Linked DNA regions of Homo sapiens. The protein of the gene in region 1 purifies or fractionates together with the protein of each later gene. This does not show direct contact. Each region holds a gene or a part of one and is shown in the gene's direction. Other genes may lie near its edges.

Region 1 (3,500 bases):
TATATATGTGTGTGTGTATATATAGATATATACTTTTTTTTTTTTTTTTGAGTCAGGGTCTCATTCTTTTGCCCAGGCTAGAATGCAATGGTGTGACCATGGCTCACTGCAGCCTCGAACTCCTAGACTCAAGTGATTCTCCTGCCTCAGCCTCTACAGTAGCTGGAACCACAGGTGTGAGCCACCACACTCAGCTAAGTTTTTTGTATTTTTTGTAGAGATGGAGTTTCACCATTTTGCCCAGCCTGGTCTCAAACTCCCGGGCTCAAGCCATCTTCTCACCTTGGCCTCCCAAAGTGCTGGGATTACAGGCATGAGCCAGCGTGCCCTACCTCTATTCTTGGGTATATTTCTTTACATCCCTGAGCCTCCTTTTTGTATCTTTAAATCAGCAATGAACCCTACTTCAGGAAACTGTCGTGAGCAATAAATAAGTTAATGAATGTCAGTGCTTAGTAAAGCGCCCATCACGTAGTAAATACTGAATAGCAAATAGCTAAATTTATCATACAGCAACAGAGTCATGATTTTTAAAATAGCACAAACGTTAGGGCTGTGGCACAAAAATAAGATCAGAACTTTCTAGAAAAACCTTATTACTAGCCTCAGAGCCACCAACTAACACCCACCTGATAGGCAGATCTCTACATAATAACCTTTAGAAATGATGCAGTTAGCTTCTGCTGAAACTATCTAGGACTCTCTCCTCAACAGATACAAAAAGCAGGGACATTTCCAAGAAAGGACAGCCACCTTTGACTTCAATGCTTTTCATTCAATTTGGGAAGGAAAAACAATTCCTCTCAATTTTCCACCAAAAATGAGCTGCTCCATCTGTTATAAAAAACTGTGCTGTACATGAGATTTCTAGAAATAGCTTCAAAAAGGGCTATGGGAAAAAGGGCCAACTTTTTGGTGATAGGGTTTCTGTGCTGAGCCCTAAGCCCATGCCCCACTCTACATATGCTGCCTTTTGATAATGCAATCCAAATCACTCAATTCAAAACAATTGTTTTCCTTGCTCTTATATAACAGATAAACTTGGTGGTTGCTAGAAACTACATAAAATTCCAAAAATAAGGGGGCCAGGTTTTATTCCTGTGTTGCCTGGAATATCTTCAGATCAAACAAGAGCAAAAAGGGCCTTTGAGACAGGTGTGGTCTGTGTGCAAGATGCTCATATCTTCCTCTGTAGTCCGCAAACTTTTGTTTTTAGCAGTACAACTCCTTTTGCAAATGAAATCTTCCAAGGAACCCTACTATTTGACAGATAAGTGAACAGCTGTTCTTGGTGTGCCTGGAAGTAAGAGGGGGATACCTCCACCCATGTTCTCAACACAGTTCTTCTAGAAAAGCCCCAGATCTATGTGGAACACAGTTTGAAAATAACCCCTCTTAAAAGCAAGAGGTTGCTCAGAGGTTGCTCAGACTCTCACAGGGCATTGAATCCTTGGATACCCAAGAGCAAGTATCTATATCTTTCAACTATTTTTGGTTGAAATCCCTGCAGATATTCTCCTCCCTAACTTCTAACCCATGGCCACTTCAGCCTTCAAAACAGTGGCTGAGAGACTGCATTTAACCCTCAGAAGCATCCCACAAAACAATGGGTTTTTCCATATCCTAAATCCAAACTTTCTAAATCACCAATAACAACTACGTTAAATTTCCTTTCTACATTGTAGAAGCAGTAATAGTGGGTTCTGTTCTGCACCATTTACTGAGAAAAATCTCCTTTCTTTTAATTAAAAGTAGGCACACTCATTTCACACAAACAGCTTTGCTCTGTGATACAGCCATTCTTCCTTTAGACATAAAGTACGAGCAGAAAAAGGTGGAAGAAGAAACAAGCTGAGAACCCAGTACACAACTTTTGATCCCTGAAAGCTGATAGAAGACCAAAGAAAAAACATCATACTTGTTCACACCTGAGACAGCATACACTTTATCAACCCAGGCAGGTAGCCAGTGGCTAGTGATGAGATAATCTTTCTAATTATAAATAATGAAATAAAGCAGGGATTTCTCCCTGACATGAGTAAGAAATTCCAAGGGAAAACACTTGAACAATGATTTCTTTATTAAGCTGACACTTATTGGGCACTCGCCATGTATCAGGTATGATACTAAGAAGTTGATAAATATTACCATTTAATCATCACGCAATCCCATGAAACAGTACCATCAACTCCATTTAAAGGTAAAGAGAGGGTGGCTCAGAGAGAAGCTGAGTGACATGCCCAAGATTATGCAGCTAGCAAATGCTAGTATTGGGATTCTAATCAAGGACTACTTGCCTCCAAATTCTGCACTTGTAACCATTGCTGTATCTCTTACCCTAACCCACAATCCTACTTTTCCATGTGAATTTCACCTGCTAGCAATGCATGCTCCCGGTGGGTTGTGCATTGGTGCAGATGTCTTTGCCATCTCAAGGATAAACCATGTAGATATTTCCCTTTCTGGCCATTTTCAACTCCTGAAGACAACTGTGGCCAGGGAACCACAGTTCAAATTGCAAATGCTCAGAGACCAAGAATTAAAAAAAAAAATTATCTTTCCCCTTTCTCTCTTTCCTAGAGTTGGGCTGTGGGATGTTTGGTTTCCTCATTTTTGGTTTATAGAACTGACAAATACTTTTCTGTCCTTCTTCAGAGGATCTCCCACAGCTGGGAGATTTAGCCGTGTCTGAGGTTGGCTGGGATGGCCTCAGACTCAACTGGACCGCAGCTGACAATGCCTATGAGCACTTTGTCATTCAGGTGCAGGAGGTCAACAAAGTGGAGGCAGCCCAGAACCTCACGTTGCCTGGCAGCCTCAGGGCTGTGGACATCCCGGGCCTCGAGGCTGCCACGCCTTATAGAGTCTCCATCTATGGGGTGATCCGGGGCTATAGAACACCAGTACTCTCTGCTGAGGCCTCCACAGGTACTTCCTCTCCCTGTCAATGCTTTCTCCCCAAGGTTCTTTGCTTCCTTTTCAAGAGATCATGCGCGGAGTCAGCATCTCGCCATAACTGAATCCTTTTCATGTGCCTTTCAGTGGCCGGCTGTGCATGCTCAGAGACCTCCCTGTGGGCTATGACTTTGTCCTCATGCCTTTGCCATGTGGATGGTGAATGATGCAGGTGTTGCCCTTTCTGATCTCCAGCCCCCCAGCCTTTCATACTTTACCTGGCTGATTCTACATCTTTTTTGAATGATGAATTTTTGTTTCAGGAATCAGCCTGATGGTTTTAATTCACTTCTCCAGTGCTTGGAGATAACTAAAAGCTTCCCTCCCTATATATGAGTTCTGGTGGAACACAGATTATTTACTTCTGAGAGTCTTTTGCTAGTTGGAAATGGTGCTTTTCTATCTCTAAATCCCTCAAGGATATGGGTAGTGTGGTTCTTGCATGTAAGAAATGTTTCTTTAAAATGCACCCAGTATAATAAGAGAACTGAATTACCCTCCTCCGGGCAGTTCTCTCAGATACTGAGTCATTGTTAGAACATCAA
Region 2 (3,500 bases), on another chromosome or scaffold:
GAAAACTAGAAATACCATTTGACCCAGCCATCCCATTACTGGGTATATACCCAAAGGACTATAAATCATGCTGCTATAAAGACACATGCACACGTATGTTTATTGCGGCACTATTCACAATAGCAAAGACTTGGAACCAACCCAAATGTCCAACAATGATAGACTGGATTAAGAAAATGTGGCACATATACACCATGGAATACTATGCAGCCTTAAAAAATGATGAGTTCATGTCCTTTGTAGGGACATGGATGAAATTGGAAACCATCATTCTCAGTAAACTATCGCAAGAACAAAAAACCAAACACTGCATATTCTCACTCATAGGTGGGAATTGAACAATGAGATCACATGGACACAGGAAGGGGAATATCACACTCTGGGGACTGTGGTGGGGTTGGGGGAGGGGGGAGGGATAGCATTGGGAGATATACCTAATGCTAGATGACACGTTAGTGGGTGCAGCGCACCAGCATGGCACATGTATACATATGTAACTAACCTGCACAATGTGCACATGTACCCTAAAACTTAGAGTATAATAAAAAATAAATAAATAAATAAATAAATAAATAAAAAAGAAAGGGGAAAAAAAAAAAAAAAGAAAGGAGGATTCTGTTTGGATAGGGGATGTTCTTTCAATTACCCACATTGAAGTTTCTTCCAATATTTTAAAGAGCTCTGGGACTTGAGTTCTTGTTTTAATAGTTCTTTGGAGATAGACTTTGGCAAACAGTAATCTAATTTGCTTGAAGGACTGAGTTCTACATGGCGTTCTTAAAGTTTGGCTTACTAACTTTATATTGCAAAGTTACTGGAAACTGGAAGATTCAAAGCAATGGCATCTTTGCCATTAAAAACAATTGCAGTTGGTGCCCTTTTTCTCCATGGATATTCCTGTCAGGTGTGACCAGATGTTGCACCTGATATTGCAGGAATGTCAAGGTGTAATTGTATCTGAAAAAAAAATGTGAACAAATAGTGTTTGTCAATTCAGTTAATCTGAGATTTCTTGAACTCTCATAGGTAGTTCACAGAGCAAAAAAGTTATGGTGTAGACCTTTGAAATACTTATTGATGGGAGACATAGAGGACTAATGTTTAGCTGTGCTTTTTGTGGGGAAAGAGGAGTGTTTTGTTTTTGTCATTTTAGGGATGGGGTTAGAGACAGCTGAGTTATATAGATCTCTGTAATGTGGGGAATGTTTTGTTTATCTGGAATTTAAGTCAGGTTGAAAGGGCTAAAAAGAATGGATATTGAGAATGAGGTATCAAGAGAGATTGTTCTGAGCAAAAACATGACCCAGGAGAAGGTTGAGAGAGCAACCTATTAGCAAAGGGGCCAGAGAAATGGATGAAGGAGTCACAGGCAGTAACATAAGACAGATGAGTGCAAGGTTGCCCGCTATGGTTGAATATTTGTCCCCTCTGAAAATCATGTTGAAACTTAATCCTCAATGTGACAGTATTGAGAGGTGGGGCCTTTGAAAGGTGACTGGGTCATGAGGGCTCTGCCCTCAGGAATGGATTAATTTATTCATTCATGGATTACTGGATTATCATGGAGTGGGCCTGGTTGCTTTATAAGAAGAGGAATTGAGACCTGAGCTAGCACATTAGCACACTCAGCTTTGTCGCCATGTGATACCGTAAGTACCCTGGCACTCTGCAGTCACCACTAGCCAGAAGGCCCTCACCAGATGTGACCTCTCAACTTTGGACTTCTCAGCCTCCATAATTGTAAGAAGTAAATTCCTTTTCTTTGTGAATTACCCAATTTCAAGTATTTTGTTGTAAACAACAGAAGACAAATTAAGACACTGCCCAATGGAGGCCTCCATCTGGGTGGAGACTGAGACATGTTGACTTGGTTCAAAGGTTGATAGTCATTGATGGAGGTGGTTGGATTTCACAGAGAAAATGAGAGGTAAAAGCAGGACTTTATTGTAGCTTTTTGACTTCTGGAGACAAGGTTTAGAAGAGGGGTGGTCTACAGCCCATCCAAGAGAGTTCAGACTGAGTCTGAGATATCACTGTGAAGATGAAGAGAATAGAGACATATATGGAAATTGGTTAATGCTGAACCATATATGGAAATTAGAAATGCTGACGTTTTGCTGAAGAGTATCAGGAAGGATATAGTATTAGGGATGTGATAGCACTCAGCATTTGTCTTTGAATTTTTGGCAGGATCTGTAGGATTTAGTGCAGTAAAATAAATGAGGGACAGTCCCCCATGTGACAGTGTCCTACAGGCAGTGGGAGATGAAGAACTACACTAAGGAATGGAGGTTAGTGTTCACAGCAAACACTGGAGGCCAGACCCAATGATCCTAGAGCTCTAGAGGACATGTGGTCCTGAGGAAGATGACAAAGAGAACTTTGTGACCCCTATAAGAGTCACCCTAATTCTTCATTTCCATTTTCATTTTCATTTTGATAAGCCTCTATAGGCAAGCCCCTTGAAGAAAAGGATGTCACTATTCTGATTTTTGTCCAGATAGCTGCAGTTAATTAAATGAATTGAAAAAATTAGAAACTCTTAGAGGGGTGTATGTTGCATGCATCAGCCTGGCTCTGATGAGTGTCACTTCAACATTGATTGGGATGTCCTGTACCTGGGAGGGAGAGTCAGGCTCTGGTTTCTGCAGAGGGCTCTGGCTTTTCTCTCTTTCTGATAACAGGGCCTGCAGCCACTCACCCTGATCCTCTCTGTGCTGCTCCTCTCCCTGTGGAGGCCCCTCTCTCCTCTCTGGGATCCTGGGGGAGCTGGGAACCAGTGACTCGTTTGTCAGGTTTGGCAGCCCATCTGAGGGCTTCTCTTTGGAGACAGAGCCTGTGCGGCTCTTGCAAAAGCTTGTATCTAGGAATGTGAGGACCTTTCCTGTTTGGAAGCCAGTCAAGGAGTTTTTTGAGAGGGGGAGCCCTTCAAGACTTCATGAAGTGGGCTCTTTAGCAATTAGATGTAGAATTTTGTAGAACTGACCAAGAACTTTACAAGTGATCATTTAGTGTGTGGGTGGCTTTTAAACAGCCAAACTCTTTTGGCGTGTACTTTGGGATCATAAATTCTACTTAAAAGGAAGTTGTTTCCTTCCTCTGATATTTGCCTATTTTGGTGGAGACAAAGAAATTAAATACTTGCCACCCATAATGAGTGCTCATCTCAAGAACAGTATATAGAAGATGTTGAATAAATTTTAATTGAAATGAATTTGTTGGCTGGTTGAATGAATGAATGAATAAAATAAAGTGCTAAATGCCCAGAGTTCACAGCAAAAAGTCAGACTCTCCTCTTCACAGCTCTGTTTACTACTCTCTTCCCCCCTTCCCCATCCCCTTCAATTCTTCACAGTCTCTACAACCTCCTTATCTTATGGAATTTCTCTAAATTTAGAACCAGGATTCTCTCCTATCTCACATTTATTATGGCAGATCAATGCCAGGAGCTTTGAAAGCTTAGCTTTTTGAAATGGGGTTTTTTCTCCTTCCTCTAGTAC

What was found.
Region 2: the proteins of TNC (region 1) and NID2 purify together in Homo sapiens (affinity purification with mass spectrometry, with the first as the bait; one study listed by BioGRID). This does not show direct contact.

The regions. Positions count from the first base shown.
Region 1 is NC_000009.12:115,059,158-115,062,657, reverse strand, and holds part of TNC (tenascin isoform 1 precursor), read left to right. Parts: intron 1-2,655; coding exon 2,656-2,928; intron 2,929-3,500. UniProt on the Homo sapiens protein: Extracellular matrix protein implicated in guidance of migrating neurons as well as axons during development, synaptic plasticity as well as neuronal regeneration. Promotes neurite outgrowth from cortical neurons grown on a monolayer of astrocytes.
Region 2 is NC_000014.9:52,062,560-52,066,059, reverse strand, and holds part of NID2 (nidogen-2 precursor), read left to right. Parts: intron 1-3,500.